Homo sapiens: one gene and its partners. The protein of the gene in region 4 interacts with the protein of the main gene of each other region in a pairwise test. Each region holds a gene or a part of one and is shown on either strand. Other genes may lie near its edges.

Region 1 (7,023 bases), on a different chromosome or scaffold from region 4:
CTAGTCCTTCCCTGCTCAGCCCCTGGGGGCCATGGGCAGGTTCTGGCTCCATATCTTCCCCTGGCTCCACAGGGTCGCCTCTCCATGAGGAGCCCTCCCCTCCCAGCCCCCAAAATGGACCTGGAACCGCTGTCCCTGCCCCCACTGACTTCAGACCCTCAGCCACACCTGAGGACCTCTTGGCCTCCCCGCTGTCACCCTCAGAGGTAGCAGCAGTGCCCCCTGCAGACCCTGGCCCCGAGGCTCTTCATCCCACAGTGCCCCTGGACCTGCCCCCTGCCACTGTTCCTGCCACCACTTTCCCAGGGGCCATGGGCTCCGTGAAGCCCGCCCTGGACTGGCTCACGAGAGAAGGCGGCGAGCTGCCCGAGGCGGACGAGTGGACGGGGGGTGACGCACCCGCCTTCTCCACTTCCACCCTCCTCTCAGGTGATGGAGACTCAGCAGAGCTTGAGGGCCCTCCCGCCCCCCTCATCCTCCCGTCCAGCCTCGACTACCAGTATGACACCCCCGGGCTCTGGGAGCTGGTGAGGCCCAGCCCAGGAAGGAGGCCTCAGGGGAGGGGATGTGGGGAAGATGCTACCCCTAGCTTGCCTTGTGATTCTGCACTGGGAGGAGGTGAGGGGCAGGGTGGAGTCTGCAGCCCCACACCGGCCTTGCCTCTGGAATCTGGCAAGGCAGAGGGCTGAGCTGGGCAGGGTGGGCTCCATAGACTGCCTTGCCCTTGGTGCCTGCAGGAAGAGGCGACCTTGGGGGCAAGCTCCTGCCCCTGTGTGGAGAGCGTTCAGGGCTCCACGTTGATGCCGGTCCATGTGGAGCGGGAAATCCGGCTGCTAGGCAGGAACCTGCACCTTTTCCAGGTCAGTGTGTCCTGCCTGCCGCTGTCCTTGCAGCCTCCTTAGCTGTTGAGAAACTCTGCACAAGCCCTGGGGAGCAGGAGGAGGGCAGAGTCCGAGGGCTCAACTCCAACCCAGAAGCTGTGCTGGGGGATCTGTTGGGTGACCTGCAGGACTCCCTGGGCCCAGCTCCTGAAGCTGCCCAACAGCTGTGTTCTCTGCCCTCAGGATGGCCCAGGAGACAATGAGTGTGTGATGGAGCTGGAGGGCCTCGAGGTGGTGGTTGAGGCCCGGGTCGAGTGTGAGCCACCTCCAGATACCCAGTGCCATGTCACCTGCCAGCAGCACCAGGTGCACACCATGAGCGCCTGGGTGGGCACGGGTGCACTGCACTGGCCACAGGCTGGCTGCCAACTGTAGCTGGCTGCACCACACTTTCCAGAGCCACGCTCTGACCGTGTCGCCCTGAGGGAGTCTCCACACCCATTTCTGACCTCTGACCATGTGCCCCGTGGAGTCCTTGCATCCCAGCTCTGAACTCTAACTTGAGACCCCATGGGGTCCCCATACTCCATTTCTGGCTCTGCCCTCCAACTTGTGGCCCCATGGGGTCCCTCTGACCCTATGCTCCTAACTGGTCGTTTTAGTCCTTTCTCTGACTAACCCCTCCCCAGGCCTGACACTTCCCCCAGTGCTTGACTCTGAACCCACTCCCATTTCTCCAGCTCAGCTATGAGGCTCTGCAGCCGGAGCTCCGTGTGGGGCTGTTTCTGCGTCGGGCCGGCCGTCTGCGTGTGGACAGTGCTGAGGGGCTGCATGGTGAGCCACCTGCGGGCTGCTGGGCTGGCGGTGGTAGCAGGGCTCTCCCAGGCCTGCCTCTCACGTGTGTCTCTGCCACCCCCAGTGGTACTGTATGACTGTTCCGTGGGACATGGAGACTGCAGCCGCTGCCAAACTGCCATGCCCCAGTATGGCTGTGTGTGGTGTGAGGGGGAGCGTCCACGTTGTGTGACCCGGGAGGCCTGTGGTGAGGCTGAGGCTGTGGCCACCCAGTGCCCAGCGCCCCTCATCCACTCGGTTTGTTGAAAGGCTGGCCATCCCTTCCTCAGTGCTGCCCTTAGAGGGAGGGTGTGGGGGCCCAAAGGTGGGAGGTTGGGGCTGCCTTTCCAGTTGAGTAGAGGTGAGCAGTCCTTGTCCTGGAACAGGTGGAGCCACTGACTGGGCCTGTAGACGGAGGCACCCGTGTCACCATCAGGGGCTCCAACCTGGGCCAGCATGTGCAGGATGTGCTGGGCATGGTCACGGTGGCTGGAGTGCCCTGTGCTGTGGATGCCCAGGAGTACGAGGTCTCCAGCAGGTAAGCTGGCTGCACCCAGCAGGAGCACGGCGCAGCCTGGGGCCTCCGCGGTTGGCGTTGCTGCTTGGGGCCTCCCACCCACCGCTCATCTGCCCCCCTCTCTCCCTGTTCCTTGATCCTGGCCACAATGCCCGAGTGCCAGCGTTGCCACTGAAGACCCTGAGCACCCACCACACCTGTAGGTTCCTGGCCTGGGCTGCTGGGGAATCCTTCCTGGGCCCGTCACTGCCCAGAACTGACTCGTGGCTCTGCTTCCTGCTCTGCTCACCTGGTCTTCTGAGGGACTGTGGATATATTAATAGCTGTGGCAGCAGGACCCTCAGATCAGACAGATAAGCTCAGGGGCTGGCCTTCTCACCAGCTCACTCTTCCCCAGGCATTGTCCTGGGCTGCCAGGCTCTTCAGGAAGGTAGACTTGGAAGGCACACCTCAGAAAGGCACACTGGCCGAGGGCCAGGCTCCACTGTCGTCTCTAGGGACCCCTGCTGCCTTCCTGGGGCTCCTGGGTTATGGTAACCTGGCCAGCGGTTGCAGGCCCCAAAGGTACACACGCAGGACATTCCTAAGGAGATGTCCATAAGCAGCAGGGCCCAAACGTGGCTGAATATCAGGGTAACCTGCAGATCCTGTCCCAAACCAACACAAACATCTGGATTCAGGAGGCCCACGGTGGGGCCCCCAAATCTGTATTTGAAACAAGGAACCACTCTCCTGGAGCACGGAGTGTCCCCTGAATGTGTTATGACCGAGAACTTACGGTGACTATCTAGACTGTTAGTGTTCCAGACCATAAGACTGCTGTGATTTATGAAGCAATTAGCATATATTCTGTCTGGAGCCTCCCCTGGGTGGCTCACACGTCACTTGTGTCTTCCTAGTGTTTGCAACAACTGTGACAATGTCACTGAGTTGAGCCACTGCAGGCTTAACACTCTGGAAGTTTAATTTGCCCAAGCTTCTATTTTCTGGCTAAGAACCAGCATTTTCTTAGATGGTTCACTTTCCCTTCACCTGTATTTCCCTGTCTGACTAGAGGCTTTCAGGGACTCTTTTTCCTGAATAAATCAAGTTTCTACCATGCTTTGAGTGGGTACTGTGCATGTGACGTGGCGGAGGACATGGGCGGCTAGCTGTGCCCACTCACTTGCTCAGCAGCTCGCCCCACAACCAGGCTGACAGGGCCCCTTTGTAAATTTATGCCACAGATAAATTCTTCCTTATTGGGGGCCCCTGGGGTTGAACTTAAATGATTGAAGCCACAAATATTAATTCTCAGATACCAAGGCCTTCTGATGTGTCATAAAGAATTCCCTCCAAAGTGAGAGAGGGTCTCTGTCAATCTTATGGAGCATGGGAAGGGGAAGACCACCTGACAGTAGGGCAGGGAGAGGGGCTGCCAGGTAAGCTTGAGGGGCCCTTGATGCAGCCTGGCACCCCCTAGCCTGCCCTGTGCCTACAGCCTCGTGTGCATCACCGGGGCCAGTGGGGAGGAGGTGGCCGGCGCCACAGCGGTGGAGGTGCCGGGAAGAGGACGTGGTGTCTCAGAACACGACTTTGCCTACCAGGTACCTGACTGCTGAGCCACCCCCAGCTGCCAGCGGGCCAACCTCTCTGGTGGCTCCTCTCAACCCATCTGGTTATTCCTTGGTGGGGCTCCCAGTCCTGGGCCAGCCTGTCTCTCAGGCTGTCCCTGCCTCCATGTGTCTGGTCTGATGCTCATCTCTCTCCCTGTCTGTCCCACAGGATCCGAAGGTCCATTCCATCTTCCCGGCCCGCGGCCCCAGAGCTGGGGGCACCCGTCTCACCCTGAATGGCTCCAAGCTCCTGACTGGGCGGCTGGAGGACATCCGAGTGGTGGTTGGAGACCAGCCTTGTCACTTGTGAGGGCCACTTCCTCATCCTGCAAAAATCCATCTGCTCCAGGGGAAAGATGGAGGGGTCTGAGATCCTGGGGAGAGCAGAAAGGGGAAGAGGGCCAGTCTGCTCCTTCAGAGAGTGGCCAGACCCTCCCTAGCCAGCTGTGGTGGGAGTGCACCTCCAGGGACACCTGGTGGAGACTGCAGTCAGCGCTTGAGGGAAGCCAGTTGGGGCCTGAGTGGTCCAAGTTTTCCCTGCCTGCGCCCCTGCATTCATTCCCACCTCCCCTCCCAGGCTGCCGGAGCAGCAGTCAGAACAACTGCGGTGTGAGACCAGCCCACGCCCCACGCCTGCCACGCTCCCTGTGGCTGTGTGGTTTGGGGCCACGGAGCGGAGGCTTCAACGCGGACAGTTCAAGTATACCTTGGACCCCAACATCACCTCTGCTGGCCCCACCAAGAGCTTCCTCAGGTGTTGGGCCAGGGGTGTGGCTGCATGGCAGGTGGCAGGGAGGTCTTTGCAGCTCCACTATGTGGGGGTTTGTAGGGCTTTATGTTGAGGCACTGAGAATCCCATGCTGCTAGTAGGGGCAAGGGGTCGTGTGGTTTGGGGCTGGGGCTGAGCTGACCTAGCCGGGACTGGGCTGTGCTTTAGGTCCAGGTAACATAAGCCATCTTACGTTACGTAAGCTCACGGTCTGTTTCAGTGGAGGACGTGAGATATGCGTCCGTGGCCAGAATCTGGACGTGGTACAGACGCCAAGAATCCGGGTGACCGTGGTCTCGAGAATGCTGCAGCCCAGCCAGGGGCTTGGACGGAGGCGTCGCGTGGTCCCGGAGACGGCATGTTCCCTTGGACCCTCCTGCAGTAGCCAGCAAGTAGGACACCCTTGGGTACCCCCACACTCTCCCCTTGCCCCATACCACACCCTGGGGACAGCCAGAGCAGGTGCCAGAGGAGGCTCTTCCCATCTTTGCTTGGCCCCTCGTCAACCTGCCTGTCTTCCTTCCAGTTTGAGGAGCCGTGCCATGTCAACTCCTCCCAGCTCATCACGTGCCGCACACCTGCCCTCCCAGGCCTGCCTGAGGACCCCTGGGTCCGGGTGGAATTTATCCTTGACAACCTGGTCTTTGACTTTGCAACACTGAACCCCACACCTTTCTCCTATGAGGCCGACCCCACCCTGCAGCCACTCAACCCTGAGGACCCCACCATGCCATTCCGGCACAAGCCTGGGAGTGTGTTCTCCGTGGAGGTACAGCTCCTACTTGGACCTGGCAGGGCCCCGAGACCCTTCCCTTGGCTGGACAGCACTGCTGTGTGTGGCGGAGAGGCCGAGACAGTAGAGCAAGGGCCGGTGGATGGACATGGCTCCTCATCCTTGCTGTGGTGGGGGCAGAGGGGGCTGGTGGGGGGTGCCTAGCCTAGCATCTGGCACGAGCTGGACTGCTTGGCTGGTGGCCCGGGTCCTGATGCACTCCATGGCAGGCTCTGGAATGACTGCATTTGTATGTTCGGCCTGTGCAGTAGCTGGGTGGTGTGGTCCACATAGGCCATCGGGCTGACCCCCGTTGGCAGCCTGGCTCACATGGACATGCGCTAGGCATGTGTCTTGGACATACACAGTGGGCAGCAGATGGGCATGCGGGCAGACCACAGGTTGATACAGCATCATCACCCCCCTGGTGAGTCATCAGACACAGATTGGGGGCTCCAGCTTTGTTAGGTAGCTGGGCAGGATTTGGGAGGCAGCTTTATGTTCTCCAGATTTTTCGTTCTGGAGAAGAAAGATAGGAAAGGGCAACAAAGGGTGATGAGGAGCAGCTTGGAGGACACCGTGTGACTGGCCTGCACTCGGGAAGGGTGCTGAGAGGCTGTCAGCTTTGCTGCTGCGGCTGGGTCTCAGGGTCCTTCCCACATTTGGGGAGGACAGGATCTGAGGGAAGGGTCCTGAGTGACTGATCGGTGACCCTCTGTTCCAGGGGGAGAACCTGGACCTTGCAATGTCCAAGGAGGAGGTGGTGGCTATGATAGGGGATGGCCCCTGTGTGGTGAAGACGCTGACGCGGCACCACCTGTACTGCGAGCCCCCCGTGGAGCAGCCCCTGCCACGGCACCATGCCCTCCGAGAGGCACCTGACTCTTTGCCTGAGTTCACGGTCAGTGGGCAGGTCCCTGGCCGGGCTGGGCATTGACCTGGGCCAAACCCTTGCTCACAGGTGGCTCCTGACACAGGTGCAGATGGGGAACTTGCGCTTCTCCCTGGGTCACGTGCAGTATGACGGCGAGAGCCCTGGGGCTTTTCCTGTGGCAGCCCAGGTGGGCTTGGGGGTGGGCACCTCTCTTCTGGCTCTGGGTGTCATCATCATTGTCCTCATGTACAGGTGGGTGCAGCCAGATGTGGCTGGGCTGGGGCAGGTCGTGGGATCTGGCTGGACTGGGAAGGGACAGACCGGGCCAGGAGTCAGGAAACATTCTCTGTAAATGGCCAGAGAGTAAATATTTTCGCTTTGCAGGCCAAGTGGTCTCTGTTCAACAACTCAGCTTTGCCACTGTGGCACAAAGGCAGCCAGGGACGACATGGAAACACATGAAAGTGGCTGTGTTCTAACAAATCTTTATAAAAATAGGTTGTGGGATGGATTTGGCCTGGTTGTGGTTGGCTGATCTCTAGGCTAAACTGTGCTGGGCTAGACGGGGCATGGGTGTGTGTGACTTGCTTGGGACGGGACAGGCTGAATCGTACTGGGCTAGGCTTGAGCTTGGCTGGCATGGCTGCATTGGACTGTGCTGGATGAGGCCGGGGTGTGCCTGGGGATTGTCAGGCAGGCCTGGGCGAGTAGGACTCATCTGGCCATCCTCTCCTGACCCTGGGGCTGAGCAGGAGGAAGAGCAAGCAGGCCCTGAGGGACTATAAGAAGGTTCAGATCCAGCTGGAGAATCTGGAGAGCAGTGTGCGGGACCGCTGCAAGA
Region 2 (7,023 bases), on a different chromosome or scaffold from region 4:
TGCTCCCTCAGCAAAGCTCTGACCCAAACGGTGCCCCTGGGGCACAAGAGGGTGAGTGCTGGGCAGCAGGAACAGGGTAGGGCTAGAGGAACCTGGTCACTGGCTGGGTAACAGGCTCTGGGGCGCCCCACAAAATGTCTCTAAGCTGCTGCACTGGGCTTCCACACAAGCACGGTCCTCTGTCTGGCAAAACCCACTCCAACACCCACCCCATGCGCTCGAGAGCCCTGTGTGCCTTCCAGTGTGAGGAGAGGGAGTGCAGGCTGAGAGGACGGGAGGGGCCTCGCACCAGAGCCACAGGGCGGTACCCCACATGGGGGCCAAGAGGGAAGTCACAGCAGAGGACCCAACTCAGGGGTCACAGGACTTTCCCCATCAGCTTCAGCCTCATAGCCACTATGAGCAGAACCAGCAGGACCCCAGGGCACCCCCACCCTGGGGGGCCTACAATCAGCAGCTGGGCCCCCACGGGCCCCAAGACCACCAGCACCCCCCGCCCCCAGCCCAGAGCCTGAACATCTGGCTTATTTCACAGAGGGAAGCTGAGGCTGCAGGGGATCCCCTCCCAGAGATCACAGAGCCAGGGAGGGGCAGGACTCCCCACCACTCCCAGGGCAACTACCATGGCAGAGATGGGAGGCCCCCTTCCTAACACTGGGCACCGGGCTGAGAGCTGCAAGCCCTGGCCAGCCCCCGGCCCAGCCCCACTCGCGGGCACACATGGGCTCAGGGGAGCTGCATCGGCACCAGCCTCTGGTGCCGGTTATGCACCCCAGGACCCACCACTGCCCACTGGGCCTCTGGGGTGTCCAAGTATCCCCACCCTTCAGTCTCTCCGGGAGCTTCCTCCACACCAGGCCAGCCTGGTGCCCACCCCAGCCCAGGCAGCTCCCCTCCACCCACACCCTCCAGGAAGCTCTGCACTGCCTCTGTCCAGCCCACTGTTCTGGGGAAGGAAAGGAGAACCCTGAAGACCAGACAGCCATCCCTGTAGCACCTAGCCCTCCCCCTGCCACCGTGGGGCCAGCCCAGGGCTGTGTGCTGGAGCTCCTCAAGCACCAGCCAAAGACAGGCAGGGGCACTACCCTTGCCCTGCCCTTGGCCCAGTAGAGGGGCTGGGGAGAGGCAGGGCCAAGGCCTCTGGCCCGGCAGAGTGCTGAGGCAGCAGACACTGGATCTCCTGGCTGGGGAGCAGGGCCCAGAGGGGAGGGGGCCGCGCAGGCCTGCCCTCACCACCCACACACAGCAGCCTCCCCAGGAGGTCAAGTGCCCTTGGAGAGCCAGCCCCCGCCTCAGCATCCCTGGGCCCCTGCACAGGCTCCTGCGTGGTCTCAAAGTGTCCTTGCTTAGTGGGCCTGGGGCCAGTCATGGGCAGAGGCACAGAGGGGAGTGGGGCCCTTCAAGGTCACTGGGCCTAGTGTAGGGCAACATTCCCCCTGCCCCCTGTACGCCAGATCTAGCCTCCCACAGCATACAGCAGCACTGGGCCTGCCACCTGGGACGGCCGCAAGCCTTTGTTCCTGCCCCAAGCCCCCTCCTCACCCCACCCCACCCAGGCCTGACCTTGCGGATGCGGCCACTTCGCGTGCCGGCGAATACCACAGTGCGGCCCCGATAGTCATAGGCAGCCACGGCGGTCAGGCCATCATCCTTGTCCACGAACAGGGGCGTCCCCTCAATGGTGACTGTGCCCCCCAGGGGCTGGTTGAAGTCCTGCCCGCAGAAGTCGTCATCGATCTGCAGGGGCTGTGGGAAGGGGCAGGGTGAGAGCCACTCCCCGGGCACCTTCTCCCGGAGGACTGGGCCTCCCTGGGCAGGGCTGGGAGTGCAGTTGTCTTTCTAGAGAGGTTGGGGGTAGCCCCCAGAGGAGAGGTGCAGACAGAGAGGGTTTAAGACAGGAGGGAGCAGATCACACCTGAAAGGCAGAGGGCGGGCTCCCAGCTAAGAGCACGAGAAAGCAATCAATAGCTTGAGGTTCCGGAGCAGCTGGGGGCCAGTGTGGAGGGGGCGCTGCTCCACCGCCAGGCCTAAGGAGAGGGCAGGGCAGGCAGGGAAGGGATGTGGGGAGAAGTGGGGCAGATGGTCCTTGTCTGCAGAGGGTTCATTGGCAGGGGCCAGGCTGCTCAGGAGGAAGGAGCAGGGGAGGCTGGGCCAGGGCTAGGCCACATGGAATGAACAGGTGGGAGGGGGCAGTGGGGACTGTCCCCAGGGATGAAAGAGCAGGCCCCAGCCTTGGGGCAGGGCACAAAGAGAGAGTGTGGTGGGGCTTCACCCAGGCTCTGCCCCTACAAGCCTCAGTGTCTCCATCTGTATGGTGCAGAGAAAACACGTTCCTTGAAAAGCCAAGGGGAGGGTGGACAACCGCATCTGCCAAGCACACATGGGCCCTGCCTCACACAGGCAGTGAGCGTGAGACGGAAGGACTGAGGGGCCCTTGCAGTCCCACTCTGCCCTGAGGACAAAACCAGCAACACCCTCAGGTCAGACATGGGAGACTACAGCCAGAGAGGGCGAGGCCTTCCCCTGCGATGGCCAGCGACCCCCAGCAGCAAGCCCAGAAGGCCTGGCCTCGGGGGTCCCAGGTCTGGGCCGAGTCCCAGCCCCTTCACTTTCCACCCTAAGCAAGGCCCGTGCCCTCTGAGCCTGCCCAGGAGTGTGAACAAGACACTCCCTGAAAGGCAGCGAGATAGAGGCCCCACCCCAGCTGTGCCTTCTGATGGGTGCTGGGGGCTGTGGCTCCCTGCAGTCAGGGTCACTTTCTCTGCAAGTTGTTAACTGTGGCCTGCACCAGGACACCATCAGCTCCCATTGCTGGGCAAAAGCAGAGGCCCAGCGGGCAGGTGCCACCAGGGTCATGTGGGGGACACAAGCGCTCCATGGAAATGGTGTCTGGGCTCACCTGATAGGCTCTGGCACCAGCCTCTCACTTGCTGTGTGACCCAGGGCAAGTTACCCCACCTCTCTGATCCTATAACCTCATTTGTAGGATGGGGACAAGATGGAGCAGGCAAGCACCAGGTGTAGGACCAGGCATGTGGCTGGCACTCTGTCCAGTGTCCCACAGGGGCTGTGGACTATGCCAGCAGGGCCTCGTCACCCCATCTTCTGAGGCACAAGACAGCATCATGGCTGGGAGCAGCCTTTGGGGCTAGCACCCTGGGTCCAAACCCACTCTCTGGGGGATGGAAAAGGGCAGCCCCACCTAGCTGAGCCATGGGGATGGCCAAGCCAAAAGCCAGGCCAGGCACACAGCAGGCACCACTGGGCGTGCATCTGACACCGATGCCGTCGTCCCTGGAGGGGATGGGGCCGCGGGAGGAGGGGCGCCCCTGCCCAACTCACCGAGTTGATGCAGCCCAGCTCCTTGTTGAGCAGCCACGGCAGGGAGAGCTTGCCCTCACCACGGTAGCAGGACTGGATGCGCTCCTTAATCTTCTCCTTGATGGCCCTGAGCGTGAACAGGCACAGTGCTGACTCCTTTGGTGGCTTCACGCGGTTCTTCTGGCCCTGGGCGAACACAGTGAACAGCACGTCCTCGTCCTCAGCCAGGCCCAGCTGGTGGGCCAGGGCACGGCCGGGCCGGCTCAGGTAGGCATCCTGCACCAGGCGGTACTCCACACCCGCCTGCTCGCAGCCAATGGGGAACTCAACGTACGAGTAGAATTTGGGGTCGTCCACACAGAGCCGCACGATCTTGGACGTGAAGAAGTGCTCGCCGGCGGCATCAGGCGAGGTCAGCTGTGTGTCTAGCTGCAGCGTGAGGTAGTAGACAAACTGCTCGCTGCGGAAGCTGTACACATAGTAGATGTCAAAGGCCGGGAACTTGGACAGCGTGTCCGAAGGGATCTTGAGCTGTGATGACACAAACTCATCCTGGTACACGAAGCCGAACATGTCGGCATCCTCCTCGTTGGCCATGAGCCGACGGCTGGACAGTGTGGGGAAGTACTCGGACTTGCCATCGATGGGTGTGCCCACGAAGAGCTTGGCCTGGCCCTGGCCCGGTGGCCCGGCAATGAGCACGCCCGCCATGCTGCCTGCCTCCTGCACGCTGGACAGGTAGTGCTCCTTACGGTGGTGTGGCTCACCCAGTTTGAAGAGATCGTCCAGACGCAGGAACTGGCAGATGCCCTGGGAGGCGCTGCCACAGGCCAGCAGGCGGTTAGCGGCATAGTCCAGCAGCAGCAGCTTGTTGACGTTGTCAGTACTGCCCAGGCCGTGGGGGCAGGACTGCACGCTGGGCGGCGGGTAGCACTTCTCGTTGTCCTCCACAGGGCCCGTGACGTGGGCCCGCAGCAGTGTCAGGTTCCCCGACAGCTTATAGATGCGGTTCACTGCGCCCACATACACCTCGCCTGTCTGCTCATGCACCACTAGGTGGGTGAGGCCCCAGTCGCTGGCCGAGAAGGTGCGGAAGGGGGGCTGTGAACCCCCGCCTGCCCTGGGCAAGCCTGCCTCAGCCCACATGCCCGGCAGCAGCAGCAGCAACAGCAGCAGCAGCAGGAGCACCTGCAGGCTCCGCGGTGGCAGCGGCATGGCAGGCTGGGGCCTTGGGCCTCGGTGCTCTGGTCCTGCTGGGGTGAGCATCATGGTGCCAGGAGCTTCAGCCCTGGGGAAGGGGCAGAAGAGGGCATGTGAATGCAGGCATGGCCCATCCCATGATATTATGATCTCCCAGTGTGAGCCCTTCCAGTGCTGGGCGTGCCCACTGCACCTCCAGGAGGCAGAACCTGACCCACCAGGAGGAGCCAGGGGCAAACTGGGCACCTCCCTGGCCTGAGGCCCTATAAGCTGTGGGGTGCACCAGGTATCCCCAGGACACCTGGCAAGAGGTCACTCCGTTGGCACCTGTGCCCTGCCATCACTGGCGGAGGCCAGGAACAGGAAGGCAGGTGACAAGGGCCTGAGGTGTGGAATGGGACCCCAGCTGACACCAACATCTGACACCAACCTGGAGAGCAGCCTTCACCCAGAGCCTCCCTATGCACTGGGGAGCAGGACCCTCCCCACAGCTCTGTACTCCCAGGGTGGGCACCAGCTCCCTGCCTGAGGCTGGTGGGGACATACTCCACCACCGTCCCCTACAGAAGCTTGACATAGATGGGCTTTAGTGCTCACTCCCACCTCCACAGCCCTGCCTCTCCCCCGAACACGCCCTGACAGCCCACAGCAGAGGCACCACGGAGGACATGGAGGCCCAGGCCACACAGGCAGCAGTTCTCACTGTGGATAGGTGGCAGCCTGGGCTGCTCTCGGTGGGACCCCAAGCCCCATGCTGGATAAACCTTGAGACCTGCAGTCCAGAAGCCAGGCAATGTGTCCCACCCACATCCCCACCCCAGCCGACGGGTGCCCCGCCACACGGCCCCTTCCCAGGCTCCCTGGCCCACCAGCCCTGACTCTCAGCACTCTATCCAAGCCACCAGTCCTGCTCCCAGCCTCACACCCAACTCCAAGGAAAGAGGAATTCCTCCACAGGGAAGGCTGGCAGGTGCTCCCTGCACTCCACCCCTCCACAGTGACCCCTTCCCAGCCTCAGCACCCCATACCCACCCAGACCTGTGTGGCCCCCTCCTGCCTTGCTCCACATCGGGCCCTCACTTCCTGGTCACACTCACTACCAAGGTCCATTGACTCCACCCCAAACTCCACAAAATGCCCACCCCTCCTTCCTGGATTGCCAGGGTACTCGGCTCCCTCCACCCACAACCACCTACAGCCAGGTCCCTATGCAGAGGCTAAGGCCACTCTTCTGACCTGCACACGAGGTCAGCGCTGCCCAGATCCTGGCGGGAGTCCCCATATCCTGTCCTGGCCTCCACTGCCTCTGGAAAAGTCTCACCACACCCTGCCTAGCAACTGGCAGCCAAGCACTGGGCTAAATCTAGACCCTGTTACTCTGTAGGCAGATGACTCTGATGGGGACACTCCCTTTTCCTAGCCTCAGTTTCCCCATTTGCAAAAGGGGCATGAAAGCTCTTTTCTCATGGATGAAAGAGGAAAGGGCACACCTGCCCACAAGGCATAGTCAGCAGTGCCACCCCCTTGGTTGTCAGTAGGGCCTGCTGCCCTGGATGTGCCTGATGTGCTGGGGCCTCTCACCCACTCCTGGCTGGAGCCGGCTACAGCAAGGCTGAGTCCTGAGTCTTGAGTTCAAGCCTCAGCCAGCCAGTTTGCACAGACCATCCCAGACACCCCTTGTATGGTCTGGCCCCATTTTACAGATGGGGAAGCTGAGGCCTGAAGATGGATGCCTTCTCCAAGTCTACCAGGGAGCTGGGCACAGTCCCATCAGCCTCTGTGCCTGGTGCCCACATGCAGTGTGGGGCTGCCTGCCCCTCCCCCAGGCCTCTGTGCCCCTGTCTCCACTCCCCGCCCTGCTCAGTCACCCTGTTCTCATCTGCAGCACAGGACTCGTGAAGGGTCTCTATTACTTATTGCTCCCATTCTCCCGGCCAGAATGGCTGCCCTGTGAGAGCAGGGCCTGGCTCTGGGTGGTTGCCACTGCATCCCCAAGCCAAGCCAGGGACCCAGGAAGACTCAATAAATCCCCGTGAGTGAGCGAATGAATGAAGGGTATGCGGAGGGCCAGCCAGGTCTGGGTGCGGCAGCCCCCCATGCTTCTTCACTCCTGTTTCACTCCCCACACACTCCCTGCCCAGTGTGTGCACAGCACACACCCACTGCTCAGGTGGGGAAACCGAGGCTCTCAGAAGCAAAGAGCTTTGGCTGGAATCCCAGAGCAGGAACTGCAGGGTGCTCCTAGCAGGCTGCCAGCTGCCTTTGCCGGACAGCGCCCCAAGAACAGCAGGGGAGGAGTCCCCACTCCCGCCCCCGCCTCAGAGCTCAAGGAAGACCCGGGAGCCAGAAAACAGGCTCCTCACAGTGGCAGTGGGGCCGGGGCTGGGAGCTGAGCACATGTGAACTCCAAAGAAAACATGAATCACTCACCGTTTATCAGTTCAAAGCAGGCCTGCAATTACCAGGGGCTGGGCTCTCCCCTCCTCTGGGATAATTATACAC
Region 3 (7,023 bases), on a different chromosome or scaffold from region 4:
CCCAGCTGCCCCTGCCTCACCCTTGAGGGCCCTGAGGTTGTGCCCTGTCCAGCAGCCACTCAGCACCCTTCTGCTGGACTCTACGCCTTGGGGTTGGGCCCAGACCCCCCATGGGGGCCTTGTCTGAGTGGAAGGCTGTATGGGGGGTGCCTGGTGAGCAGCAGCCAGACGAGCACTGGGGGAGGTAGCCCGCCCAGCTTGCCTCTTCCCCAGATATCAACAGGGTCTTTGTGGCTTCCTGAAGGCTGTGGCTGGAAAAAGAGGGAGGAGCTGGGGAGGGTCTGGCCGCTGTTCTTTCTAGAAGCTTTTCTTTGTCCAGTGGCCCCCAGCCCAGGTCCCCGTGTTCTTCCCAGGTTGGAAAGCTGCAGAGGGAGTGCCCAGCCACTGTCAGTCAGCAGCTCCTGCTCATCTCTGGCCCTTACACCCAGCAGGGGCAGCTGCGAGGGCCAGGGGTTGGGTGGGGCAGGAGGGTGGCAGCGTCCTGGGCTCCATGCACTTGGCCAAAGAGGACTTCTGAACCCGTCCATCCCAGTGCGGGTCTGAGAGTGGAACTTGAGGGAAAGGGACTGAGTCCCGGGAGCCCCTCTGCCCCCTGCCCTCCAGCCAGGCAGACTTCCTATCTGCATGTATGGGGTTTGTGTCTCTGCTTGTGTGTGTGTATTTGTGTGTGTGTAACCTCCAGTATTCCTGTTTGTCTGGGTGGGGTCATATATTTGGTTGCATGTGTGTGTGTGTTCGTGAACCAGCATGCACACACATATTGTCATGAGGCCACGTGGGTCTCCTCAGATGCCCCAACAGGGCCTGTGCTGGGAAGGGGTGGGGCTGAGGGTGGCTGCTGCAGTGGCTGGATGGGGACAGAGCCTCTGGCCAACCCAGGCTGTGCTTCAGTGGAGGGGGGTTCCCTGTGGCCCTGTCTCCCAGCCATCTGCGTCTGTGTTCATGACTTAGGAATGCCCAAGCCCTGGGGATCACAGAGGCCCCATTGTCCGCCCCCGGGCTTCCTGTGTCCCCCTCTGCCCTTTAACCCCTCGGGAGTGGGGCCCCTGGAGGGGGCCCGTGGGGCCTGGCAGTGTCTGAGCTGTTTCCAGGCACCCCCACCCCGCCCCCCGCAAACCAACACAGGCTAGGTATCCCAGGACTGCTGTGGGCCAGGGCCTCTCCCTGCCCCAGGCTGGGCTCCTTCCCTGCTCTCCTTTTCAGGCCACAGCCCCAGGAACTGGATGCAGTCTGTTCCTTCTGGCCTGGCCGCTGAAGCCCCCTCTAGTGCTAGGGTCATCCTAGCTCCCTGAGGAGGCCTGGGGCCTGAGAGGAGCCCTAGTTTTGCTGCCACCTCATTTCTCTCGCCTTCTAGGGGTCTCGGAGGCTGAAGCCTTGCCGCCTGCTGGGCATCAGTATCTCCTTCGACACAAGAATGGGGCCACTGCTGTCCCTAAATGCTGATTGGAGAGGGGCCTCTTTGGGAGGGGTTCTGGAGCCTCTGGTTGCAAGAAAGGTATCAGAACAAGTCCAGATTCCAGAGAGCAGAAGAGGGGACCAAGAAACCAGCCTGTCCCCAAGCCCAAAAGGGAAAGGAGTTGGCCTTCTCTTGGACTGAGTACCTGGATGGGGGACTTGGGGGTTTGTTTGGTGTCGGGCTTCAGCTCTGTGCTGAGACGTGATGTTGATCACATCCTACTTCCGCATGGCCTCCATCCCAAGATGTCACTCCCTGCCCCCGACATTTGCCTGCCATCTGCCTGGCAAGTAAGCCCTCCCCACGGGGCAGGATGGCTTGGAGGCCATCCTCGCCCAGGCCCCTGGTTCCCTGGGAAGCCCAGCAGGCACACATGTTGGGATGCCAGAGCCTCTGAGAGGCAGCTTAGGGAGCCACCACGCCCTCTAAAACCCCACCCCTGCTGAGACCCAGTGCCAGCTCTGTGATCTTGGACACAGTTTCCAGTTTTCTGAGCCTCCGTGTCCTCATCTGTAAAATGGGGATGATGATAGCACCTCCCTCCCTGAGGCAAATCTGGGGAGGAGATGAGTGGATGTGAGTGGAAGTGCTCATGAGGCTTTCTGGTACGTGGTAAGTCCACGCTGTAAGTTGATTTAATAGAACAGACCACAGAGGCATGTGATTGTGGGGATGGAGTGGGGCTCCTCCCTCCCTTCCCCAGTAGTCAAGACCGTCCTCCCTGAACCCCACAAAGGGTTAACCTCCGTCTCTTTTCCCCATCTTTTAAGGAGAATGGTCCATTACAGGTGAGTTGTAGTTGCCTTGGAGACTGAAGCCTCAGGCGAGATGAGGGGGCTGAGGGCTCACTCTCTCCTAAGGGTACCCTCTTAGGGAGGGGTGAGGTTGGGAGTGCAGGGACTAAGCAGCAGTCATAAAGGACTTCTGGGCCCCCAGGTACCTGTGGGGGCTCCCTGGAGCAGCCCCCTTTATGTGCTGTCTACATAACACATAACAAGGCTTTCCTCTGGCTTCCCCCACCTCTGGGACTTGGGCTGCATCACCATAGAAACCCGCCAGCCACGGCCTGGGGAGCGGGGCGGGGAGGGCCAGCGGGAGCCTTAAAGGGACACAGTGCACAGGGTGTAGGTGACACCCACACCATCGTATACACACCAACAGGCACAGAAGCCCCCCAGGCTCCCAGGCCTGCAAGCACATGGGCCCAGCACCACACTCTGACCCTTTCATGTGCCCTGTGCTGAGCCCCCAGCCCCACCCCCACTCTGGCCCACTGAGTCACCAGGCACCATGTCCCCAGGAGACAAGGGCAGGAGAAGCCGGATAGTCTCTGCTGTGCTGTTGAAGGGCTCTCTTGTTGCTTCTCCTTTGAGAGGAACTCCAGGCAGAACCTGAGAACTGACAGGCAGGTGTGCAGGGCACATGTGCAGGGCACCGCTGGAGGTTCCCTTCTCAAGGTGTGTGGTGGTGGTGGTGATGGGGTGTGTGTGTGTGTTTTCAGGGAGGAGGCAGTCACTCCAGGTCTAGCCAGGCTCCACAACCTCCCAGGTCCCTCCCTGGCAAGCTGCTTCCCATCAGACCAAAGCAGGCACTTTGGAGCAGAGGACAGAGGACTCCCTGAGGGACCTGCGGGTGTAGTGGGAGGCCAGGTGGGGTGGGATGGGGCAAGGCTCTTCTGGGGCTGAACCCCTCCCTGTAGGCTGCTGGGCGTGACCCTTGCCTCCCTGGCCCTTTCCCACCGGGGAGGATGGGTTTGGGACCGGACTTACTCAGGAATGGCCCCATCTTCAACTGCCCCAGCACAGCGGCCACTGTCCACTCAGTGCATGGTCACGCAGGCTCACTCTTGGCCTAACACATGTGCGTCTCCTCCAGCCAGGTGACCACTTACTCCCAGCCAGCAGCAATATTGGAAGGCTTCCCTGGGATTTTCTGGGTGCTTCCCCCTCCCCCCGTTCCTACCCGCAGCAGGAATCCCCCGACCCCCACCTGTTCCCTGGCATGGCATGGGTCAGCCAGCAGTGTGCCATTCATCCTGTCTCACGGCCGTCCCTTGCCCAGTGCCACAAGTGGGCAGGGCCTTGATGCTCTGTTGCGTGGGGCTTTGTAGGCCCCTCCGGCCCCAGCTCACAGCTGCTCCACCCTCTGTCTGTCTCTCTACCCTGCTCCCAGGCCAGCGTGACGTCCACGCCGGGAAGCCCCTCCACTGACCCAGGCCCATCTTCCCTCCTCCCCGCCCCTTGCCTGGCACAGCCCCCAGGGACAAGGACGCTGTGCAGGCGGCCTGCGCGCACGCGCACGTGCACACGCCCACCCCCACCCCTCACTCTTCTCGCTCTTTCTGCCATTTCTCAGCGGCGCACTCTGCAGCTGCCTCTCACCCTTTGTGCTCCGGTTTCCTCTTCTCTCCCTTTCTCTGCTGCCTGGGTCTCCGTTTCGGAATTTCCCCACCCCCTAACCATCTCCATCGTGGTTAGCGCTGTCTTCCTACGTCTGTCTTTGTCTCCTGCTCCCCCCTGCCTCTTCTCACTCTGTCTGTCACCCTTGGCAGACCCGGCCTTGGCTCCATCTGTGGAACACTCCCCCCTCCCCGCTCCTTTGCCCTTAGTGGTGCTGGTGGGGGGTAGAGGGCCTGCTGAGCTGACAACCCTAGCTGCTTGCTCTGTAATTGCCTGAGGAATGGTGAGAGATCAGAGACCCAGCAGCAGTGGGAGGAGAGGAGGGAGCGCCCCCTCCCAGCTGTTATATCTCGCAACCTTCTGGCTGCTTCCTGCCTGTCTCCGACTGCCCAGGGCGGTGGCAAGCTAGGTGGCAAATACTGGGAGACCAAAAAAGAAGTTGGATATGAGCCTGTGGGGAGATGGGATGGGGCTGGGATGGGGCAGGGAGCGGGGACCAGGGGTTTGGGGATATTGTATTTCCCCTGAGCGTACATGCCAAACACCATTCCAGGATTCTAGATTTGGAGGACAAATAGAGGAACTTGCGTGGCAGAAATTATCGACCTCCAGAGCACCCAAAAGCCTCTGACATGCAGGAGGGTCCTTCTTTGAGCTTTTCCTTGCTCCGGTTTCCTCCCCTCCCCCTCCTAAGACCAGTGCTCAGAGCTCCCAAGGCTGCTGTTTGATCATCTGCTCTCTGATCCGAGTCTCCTACTGCTCCTACAGGCCTTGAAGTTGAGGCCAGTGCTGCCTGGGGCCTCCCCTGATCCACTGGCTTTGTAGGGAGAGGCCGGGGTGGAACAGATCCACTGTTGCTCTTCCCTTCTGGGCCCAGGTCCAGCTCTTGCAGGCTGGGAATCACTCTTCTTACCCTCCAAGTCATCTCTTGGCCTCCAGGCCATGCACGCTGACCCACCCTGCTGCTTCTCCACCACCCTCTGCAGCAAGCTCTTGCCCAGAGTCCCCACGGGATCTGCCGCATTCACAGCTCTTCTTGGGTCACTCTGTTACACAAAACTGACAAGGCCCAGAGCCTTAGCACAGCATGGCTGACTTCTCTACCATCCTTTCGGTGTTCCTGCTGAGGCTCGGTGCCCGCTTTGATAAGGTCCTGGCTGGGCAGAGGGAGGATGCACAGTATGGATTTAATGAAGGCGTCTAGTCTGGGACTTCAGCCTCCAAGCTCTGTCACCTAACAACACCCTTTCTTGCCTTGCCTGCACTTTAACCACTTCCTGTTTGGAATTGAAGTGGTCTGGCCACTTGGGAGTCTGTTTCCTCTTGTCATTGTCAGAGGAGCCCCCTCTTTCAGACCCTTAGTCTTTGGCTCCCCTTACTTGTAGGTGAATATGGACATGGCCGGTGTGGCTTGGGTTTGGGGTGGACACATGCAGCAGTTGAGCTCTGAAGACTCAGACAAAGACCTAGAAATTGGGACTTTGAGACACACAAGAAGTGTTAGAAACACTGTCACGGAAAATGTCCCAGAGCTTGTCCTGACCCCTGTCCTGACCCTAACCTGGAGCATCTGGAAGGGAGGAGGCCTCAGTGGCCTCTCTTGACCCCCAGGGGGCTGAGGAGCAGCAGGGGGTTGTTTTCCTCCTTCCTCTCTTCTCCCACACCAGTTCTCAAGGGAAGGCTTCCTTCCCCATTCTTTCTCTCTTTTTTTTGAGATGGAGTTTCGCTCTTGTTGCCCAGGCTGGAGTGCAATGGTGCGATCTTGGCTCACTGCAACTTCCGCCTCCTGGGTTCAAGAGATTCTCCTGCCTCAGCCTCCCAAGTAGCTGGGATTACAGGAATGCACCACCACGCCAGGCTAACTTTTTTTTTTTTTTTGAGACAGAGTCTTGCTCTGTCACCCAGGCTGGAGTACAATGGCGCAATCTCCGCTCACCGCAACCTCTGCCTCCTGGGTTCAAGTGATTCTCCTGCCTCAGCCTCCTGAGTAGCTGGGATTACAGGCATGAGCCACCACGCCTGGCTTTTTTTTTTTTTTTTTTTTTTTTTTTTGTATTTTTAGTAGAGACAGGATTTCACCATGTTGGCCAGGCTGGTCTCAAACTGCTGACCTCATGATCCGCCTGCCTCAGCCTCCCAAAGTGCTGGGATTACAGGCGTGAGCCACCACGCCCAGCCCTAATTTTGTATTTTTACTAGAGACAGGGTTTCACCATGTTGGCCTGGCTGGTTTTGAACTCCTGACTTCAGGTGATCCACCCACCTCGGCCTCCCAAAGTGCTGGGATTACAGGCATGAGCCACTGTGCCTGGCCTTTTATTTTTATTTTTATTTATTTTTTTAGACAGAGTCTCACTCCATCACCCAGGCTGGGGGGCAGTGGCACGATCTTGGCTCACTGCAACCTCCGCCTCTCAGGCTCAAGTGATTCTCATGCCTCAGCCTCCCAAGTAGCTGGCATTACAGGCGCCCACCACCAAGGCTAATTTTTTTTCTTTTTGTATTTTTAGTAGAGACGGGGTTCCGCCATGTTGGCCAGGCTGGTCTCAAACTCCCAACCTCAAGAGATCCACCCACCTCAGCCTCCCAAACTACTGGGATTACAGGCGTGAGCCACCACGCCTGGCCCTTTCCCCATTCTTTCTTCATTTTCCTGAAACTATTTTGTGAAATGCTGCCATCTTGGGCCCCTTTCCTCCCTTCTCTATCCCACTTCCCAATCCCCCCATTAGCTTTTTAGGTCTGTACAGCACCCAGGCATCAGTTGGCTCTGAAAGCTATAGCAATGTGACTGCAAGAAGAATTCTTCTCTACATGTGTGTGCACACAGAGATAATAGATACAGGGATTCATCCCCACAGATACATAAAGACATACAAGAAGACACACGTAGCTAGCAGACTTGTGTGTTGATTCCCTCAGGCACACACACTAACACACCCACTCATGAGTGCAACCCCTCCCAGAGAAGACACACCACAGAAATACCAGCTCACATACAGCTCACTCCCTGCTTGCAGATCCACAACCACACACATGCCCACGGACACCTGCACATGCAGACACATACGGGGATGTGCATGCCATGCACAGGGGAGCTGATGGGGCAACAAGTTGGTGCTGGGAAGGCAGCTGGCAGGAAAGGTGCAGACAGAGAGTAGAGAGGGA
Region 4 (7,023 bases):
CCTTCTAAGGGAATGACAATAGAGCAAGCTCTAAGAGGGCATGTCAGGATGCTCTTTCTAGCTCTCAAGCAAGAAGTGAATAGAGAGTTAATTTCCTCACAACCATGTGTGAGGCTCAGCTGAGTGGCCCGCATGAAGAATGCTGCACAGCAGCCATAAACTCTAACCTTTTCAAAATTCCTCTTGGCCCCCTGAAGACCCGCCAGCTGGCTTGGCTTTGCTGAATTGCCTCATCCCGGGCCATTGAGGAGGCCCTCAGGAGTCCGAAGCCCAATCATAAACAAAGCTGGGGGAGGCAGCCCCAGCTCATCCCTCCAGGACTAGCTGCCCATTGAAAACTCGGCCTGACCTGCTGCTGCCATGCATATGAATGATGGGGTGCAGAGCCTCTGAGATTCGCTGCTTAGAGCCTCCACAGAACCCATGCAAAGGTTAGCCCTTGCCCTCGTGTGTTCCTAGTCCCTACCCTGCCAAAGCACAGCACAAGGTGGAAAGTAGGAAGTGATGGATGGATAGGTAGGAGATACTGGAATTTTCTGTCTGGTGCTGAAGAAAGTTGCAACTCCTCCATCCGCATTTATTTGCATGGCACTTCTTCCAAATCAGACATTTGCCTCTTTCCAGAATGCTGTCATCAATAAAGAGACTCAATGAGAGGCCCCCTACAGGAGCTGCGGATAAAGGCATCGCTGCAGGCTCAGATCAGTGTATTGACATCACCTAGTTATATTTCAGTGTGAGCCCCAGAGGACACTTCCTGACAGTAAACACCCAGTTTATCGAGTATTTCTGGTTGGTTGTGTTTTTTATGCTTAGAGTGTCTATTATCCTCCTCAAAAATCCTGCTTCCTTTTCTTCTTTTAAAATCTGAACATAACGAGTGAAATCAATTCTAATTGTCCAGCACTTTCATTCATTGCGTGAATGTGCATGAGCTCGTGCTTCGTGGGTCCATGGGTCTGGGTTGCAGTGCTCCCGGGACCCATCTGTGGTGCTGCCCTGGCAAATGGTGGCTGGTTAAAGCACAAGGACCCTTTTAATATGACTCCACCTAGAGGCATTAAGAGATAGGGTGGCTGTAATCCTCTTATGAGCTCCTGTTCCTGCTCCTGCTGCCATCCAAGCTCGCACCAGGATGCGAATGTGTGCCGCATTTAATCAGGATGCCTCCATGCGTCCCAAGAAAGCAGACGCAAGAGCTCAGGAGAGAAACAAGGCCATCCACACCACAAAGGAGCCAGAAGCCTTCCAAATGTCAATGCACTGCTGCATTTTTCCAAACTTGTTGCCGGAGCGGCCTTTAACATCCCCAACGGCCTGCTGTGATCCACCAGCTAAAAACATCGATTGTTAATTGTCCGACCACTACAGAGCAGCTCGTTTTAATATAGTCATGACATGAATGAGACCCAAGCTCCCCTTTGCCCCTCCCCTGAGGCACCTTGGATCTTGGAGGGAGAAGGGGGCACTTCGTTGGCTGTGGTACAATAGGGGCTAGTGTTGAGGTCAGCAACAAATAAGGGGTAACATTGTTTTCCCTGCTGGCAATCAGCAAGGCTTCCTTAAGGATTGAAATAACTTACATTTCTGGAGTGAGCAGCTGAGTAATTGAGAAAGAAGACTCTGTTCCTCTTTTCAAGAGAATCCCTCTCTCTCTCTCTCTCTCTCTCTCATACACACACACACACACACACACACACACACACACACACACTTCTCTGTACCTCCACCCCACTCCCCAATTCCTCAATTGCTGCTCTCACTCTAATAATTATGTAGAGCAAGCCAGCTGTGCCTCCCTAATTTATGAGGGCTTGAAACGTGCATGTGAAGAGTATGTTGCTTCAAGGGCCACTCCAGTAGCAACAAAAACCTCAAGAGCAGGGGGATTTGGGGCCAAACATTTAAATAACCCATGTGACAGAGGCCACAAAGAAAGGCATCTTCTTCTTAGTGCTACAGTTCTCTTTTACATACAGGCTCTGAAGATTGCTCAAAAAACTTCACAAGCCCCAACGGGACCATCGAATCTCCTGGGTTTCCTGAGAAGTATCCACACAACTTGGACTGCACCTTTACCATCCTGGCCAAACCCAAGATGGAGATCATCCTGCAGTTCCTGATCTTTGACCTGGAGCATGACCCTTTGCAGGTGGGAGAGGGGGACTGCAAGTACGATTGGCTGGACATCTGGGATGGCATTCCACATGGTGAGTGATGTCATGAGGCATTCCTCAGTAGCTTGGCCTTTGCCTGTTAATTGCTTTAGTGATGATAAAGAGGAAGAACAAAGACTTCAAAGCTCCTATGAGTTCTTATATGACCCATGGTGACTTTCTCTTCTTCCCCTTCACTAAGGATAGCTTGAGAGAAATTACAGGAAGGCTGTCTACTTTCTTGGAAATATTTCTTTAGAAAAGGATAGGAGACTAAATAGATACTTGGAAAGGATGAGAAAACTTAAAGTGTTCATTTCTACTCCAAATTGTCAGGATAGAAGGTGGCTCAGTGGCTAACCCCTGTGACAAAACAGAAGGACTCCAGAGCCAGACTGGCCGGGCTTAACTCCCGGCTCTGCTACTCCCCAGCTGTGCAACCTTAGACAAATCCCTTACCCTATCTGTGCCTTATCTGTGTTAAGTTAGCTGCTATCATCATCATTATTACTATAATTTTAAAATTGTCATTAATATAGTCATAAATATTGAAAAGGTACATCACCCAAGGCTAACAGCCACCAGTACTTCGCAGGTGAAGACCAACATGGATCTTGGGTCTAATTAGTATTGGAGAGGAACAAATCTTTCACTTTTGTAGTCATTGTAAGTTTTTTCTAATATAAAGGAGACTTGATGACTAAGCAAAAAGAGCAATTTCATTTCCTGGGTAAATCACAAGACTTAGTCAGAAAACTTGGGTTGTAGGCCCAGCTCTGCTATTTCCTAGCAGTAAGAATAAAGAAATCACATGCGCTCTCCAAACTTCAGTTTCTTCCTCTGTAGAACAGACATTGTAATGATACCTTTCCAGCTCATCTTCCAGGCCACTGAGAACAGAATGAAGCCAGTGAAAGTGGCCTGTACCTTTTTAATGAAAAAGTGAAAGTGCTTTTTGATGTGCAGGAAAAATATTAGCCATTGTTCTTGAAACATATCTTTGGTTTTTATGGCAAGATGTACAAAGTGTGCTCCACTGAATGAAATGCAATGAGGGGAAGGGAAAACGGAGTGAAAACCAAGTTTGACATTTTGATTTCCACTGACTTCTCTTTGTCTTGAATGTCCAGTTGGCCCCCTGATTGGCAAGTACTGTGGGACCAAAACACCCTCTGAACTTCGTTCATCGACGGGGATCCTCTCCCTGACCTTTCACACGGACATGGCGGTGGCCAAGGATGGCTTCTCTGCGCGTTACTACCTGGTCCACCAAGAGCCACTAGAGAGTGAGTTGGCCGATTGGGAACCTCTGTCCTGTCCTTCCGTCAGGGCTGTGAGGGTGTACAGGTGAAGGGGGGCTGAGCTCTTATGAGGGAGGAGATGGGAACTCTACGGAATTTATGGTGGCATCTGAGTTTAGAGGTGCCCACATCCTCTTGCCAGGAAGAGGTTGATGAGAAAAGAACACATTTCAATCTGGGTGCTTCTTTCTTTAAAAAATATATATATGTGTGTAACAAGAATTAGTTATTTTCAGGGAAAGTCATGGTACCATCTCATACCTCAGTTTCCTCATCTATGAATGAAAGAGAGGCTAGTTAGGATGATCTATACAGGGCCCCTCCTGTGCTAACATTTTTTTAGTCTGTGGCCATTTTTTTCCCTCTCAAAATCTCAGGGGCAATTGTCACAAAAGTGAACCATTTTAAACCTCTCTTTCTCTGGATTTTTTGACATTAACCATCTCTGGGCCTGGGTAATGTTTTCCTGACTAGATTGGTACAACTGCTTAGACTTGGACTTCACCCTTCCACCAAAGATAGTTTGTGGAGCTTCTAGTATGTGCCAGGCACCAAGCAAGGAATTAAAAACTATCACTCTGATCACAGCTGCTGTGGGACCTGCAGTCCCTCAGCACTGAGCAACATCTTCAAATCAGCTGCTCTTGGACATGTGTTTCAAATATGCTGCCATTTCTACTTAAAAACCCAAACGATAACTTTTTTTTTTTTTTTTTTTTTTTTTTGAGACAGAGTCTCTCTCTGTTGCCCAGGCTGGAGTGCAGTGGCTCAATCTCACTCTTCCCAGTGCAACCTCCACCTCCCGGGTTTAAGCAATTCTCGTGTCTCAGCCTCCCGAGTAGCTGGAACTACAGGCATGCGCCACCATGCCCAGCTAATTTTTGTATTTTTAGCAGAGGTGGGGTTTCACCATGTTGGCTAGACTGGTCTCGAACTCCTGCCCTCAAGTGATCTGCCTGCCTTGGCCTCCCCAAATGCTGGGATTATAGGTGTGAGCCACCATGTCCAGCCCCACATAACTTTAAAGACTGAAGAAGCACTTTTAAGAAAGATTCAAGCTGTGGAAATCCTACCCTGATTGCAGACAACTCACCATATATATAACTACAGACACGGCAGCCTGGCCTGCAGGAAGGTTGCTGGGTTTTGCATTTGTTTTTTCATCAAAGAGCTTCTGAAGATTGAGTGACAAAGAAACAGTATGGCAAATTGCACCAGGTCCCGTGAATGGTCAGTGCAGTCACAGAGTAAAGAATAGGTTGATACCTGATAAGGATTGCTGGCCGATCTTAGACACATGCACACACACATATCGATCAGTGTTGATGGCATTCATAGAAGGACAGCAATGCAACTGACAGCACAGGGCCAGAGTAAGTGACTTCTGGGTCTATTTGTCCAGACAGGTGGTGCGGGGGAATAGAGAGTGACATGCATGTGCTCATGGAGAGATTTCCCAAAGACAAGTATTTATGCTTTGTAATGTCTGTCTTCTGTGCCAGAACTCACAAGACAGTTGAGTGAAAAAAGAAAGAAGCAAAAGTGCCTCCTGGGTGTTTATTAATAAAGCAGGCTTCCCACGATGTATGAGCTCACCCAAATCGCCACGAGTCTATCTCACATTTACCTGTATTGCAGTAATGGTGCATCTGGCATCTGTAGCCTGCAGCAATAACAGTTCTTGTGCTTTAGATTGTATTTTTAATCTGTATGATGATTCTCTTATTTATCCATAGCCTGATTTCTTTTAGGTCCCATTTAGTTTCTCTCAGACCCAGAGGGGTTGTCAAGCTCCATGACTTGATGTAGTTGTTTTTAAAATGTGAGCATATAATTAGGGTCTTTTAAATGAGGAAGTGCCTGCAAGGACTTGTCCCTAGAAGGGAGGCAGCATTTGGGGGATCCCGAGGTATGAGGTTGGAAGGCCTAACTGCATTTGACCGTCTGCTTTCCCCAGACTTTCAGTGCAATGTTCCTCTGGGCATGGAGTCTGGCCGGATTGCTAATGAACAGATCAGTGCCTCATCTACCTACTCTGATGGGAGGTGGACCCCTCAACAAAGCCGGCTCCATGGTGATGACAATGGCTGGACCCCCAACTTGGATTCCAACAAGGAGTATCTCCAGGTACTTGTGCAGATACCAGAGGATGTGAGAGTGTGTATGTATTGCTGGGGTAGGAGGGTAGCTCCTCAAATACAGTAGGCAGAGGACACAAAGAAAATAAACACAGCATACCTGAGAACTCCATTCATTCATTCATCCAAACAGATGTGTATGCCAGGCACTGGGTTACATGCTGGCATACACTGATCAGAGGGAGCCTGCCCCTGCCCTTGTGGGGATTACTGGGCCTGGGGAGAAGTTGTTTGGCCAGGATGCTGTTTGCCCTATCACTATAGATATCCAAGGAACATTATATAAGCTGTTTGGATCTTCCTCATTCTTGGCACAGGGAGGCATCAGGGACATGGGGGGCATTCTCCTAAGGGGAGGTTTGTTGAGGTGCTAGCTGCACATGACAGCTTCTCATGATCTTTGCTATTGGAGAGAGCCCTGCCAGGAAGGTTTTGCACAGAGCTATCAGAAGAACACATAGGAAAATGTCACTACCAGGAACAGAACTCAAGGTGCCCCAGATGCTCGGCAGCATCTCTTCAGACCATTGTTTGCTTTATTCTGAATAAACCTTGCAGCTCATGTTGAGTAATCTTCCCGCACTGCACACTGCTCCAATTCTCATCCCCTGGGAAGAAGTAAACAGGGGGAAAGCAAGCTACTAGTTCCACACCAGAGCAGTGACTGCTTTTATGACACACGTAAGACAGCCTTGTGACCCACTGACAAGCCTGTCCTAGCTCTGAGGCGACACAGTGACCTCTGCTCTAAGAAGGATATTGCAAAGCAGACAACAGGAAAGGGAGAAACACCACTTAGAAACTCCAGGGAGTCCACAGAGGTTCTAACAGTAAGCCCTGGGGCCATTTGTCATTGTCTCTTCTCTCTGCCTCTCCAAAAATCCATCTCCTCGCAGCCTGCAAAACTTCCAGAAAGTTCTGTATAACTGGCATCCCCTATCTTTGACCTTAATCATATACTTTCGCCTATTGCTATCCACCTGTTTCTCATACGTGTAGACAGCACTATGTACTACTTATTCAAATGTTTAGTAATGCTGAGCACATTGTAGGTCACCAATAAGTGCTTACTGAATTGAATTTAGCCAGTGTGTGCTAGCTACATTTTGGTCATATGGAGACTGCCATTAAGAAACACCATGGCCATCAAAGGAATGACATCCAGCAATTTCCAAATGGGTTTGGCATTGTGGGAGGGGAAGTACCTTAAAATGTTGGCCATCCTCCTCATAGAGCAAAAGGTCAGGACTCGGTGCATAAGCCTAATTGCTTGGGCAGACTCTACATGCCCTTTGACCCCTTAGTGACCTGAGCAACTAAATACACAATGGAGCGAGAGGGTGTGGGGAGGGGATGCCTCTATGAGTGTGACTTTTGGAACTAGGGCATTATAAGTGAGTTGGATTGAACTGGACAGGAGTAGAGTGG

What was found.
Region 1: the proteins of NRP2 (region 4) and PLXNB1 interact in a two-hybrid assay, tested with the Homo sapiens proteins (one study listed by BioGRID).
Region 2: the proteins of NRP2 (region 4) and PLXNA1 interact in a two-hybrid assay, tested with the Homo sapiens proteins (one study listed by BioGRID).
Region 3: the proteins of NRP2 (region 4) and L1CAM interact in a two-hybrid assay, tested with the Homo sapiens proteins (one study listed by BioGRID).

Annotation. Positions count from the first base shown.
Region 1 is NC_000003.12:48,413,081-48,420,103, reverse strand, and holds part of PLXNB1 (plexin-B1 precursor), read left to right. Parts: coding exon 1-527; intron 528-737; coding exon 738-860; intron 861-1,064; coding exon 1,065-1,187; intron 1,188-1,561; coding exon 1,562-1,655; intron 1,656-1,740; coding exon 1,741-1,913; intron 1,914-2,041; coding exon 2,042-2,193; intron 2,194-3,652; coding exon 3,653-3,758; intron 3,759-3,936; coding exon 3,937-4,073; intron 4,074-4,344; coding exon 4,345-4,521; intron 4,522-4,756; coding exon 4,757-4,928; intron 4,929-5,062; coding exon 5,063-5,305; intron 5,306-6,032; coding exon 6,033-6,209; intron 6,210-6,285; coding exon 6,286-6,434; intron 6,435-6,566; coding exon of another isoform or gene 6,567-6,717; exon of another isoform or gene 6,718-6,934; coding exon 6,935-7,023. UniProt on the Homo sapiens protein: Receptor for SEMA4D. Plays a role in GABAergic synapse development. Mediates SEMA4A- and SEMA4D-dependent inhibitory synapse development. Plays a role in RHOA activation and subsequent changes of the actin cytoskeleton.
Region 2 is NC_000003.12:126,986,107-126,993,129, reverse strand, and holds part of PLXNA1 (plexin-A1 precursor), read right to left. Parts: intron 4,610-7,023; 5' UTR 4,537-4,609; coding exon 3,343-4,536; intron 1,747-3,342; coding exon 1,564-1,746; intron 1-1,563. UniProt on the Homo sapiens protein: Coreceptor for SEMA3A, SEMA3C, SEMA3F and SEMA6D. Necessary for signaling by class 3 semaphorins and subsequent remodeling of the cytoskeleton. Plays a role in axon guidance, invasive growth and cell migration.
Region 3 is NC_000023.11:153,876,172-153,883,194, reverse strand, and holds part of L1CAM (neural cell adhesion molecule L1 isoform 1 precursor), read left to right. Parts: intron 1-2,476; exon of another isoform or gene 2,477-2,523; intron 2,524-7,023. UniProt on the Homo sapiens protein: Neural cell adhesion molecule involved in the dynamics of cell adhesion and in the generation of transmembrane signals at tyrosine kinase receptors.
Region 4 is NC_000002.12:205,720,499-205,727,521, forward strand, and holds part of NRP2 (neuropilin-2 isoform 2 precursor), read left to right. Parts: intron 1-1,979; coding exon 1,980-2,210; intron 2,211-3,286; coding exon 3,287-3,442; intron 3,443-5,414; coding exon 5,415-5,584; intron 5,585-7,023.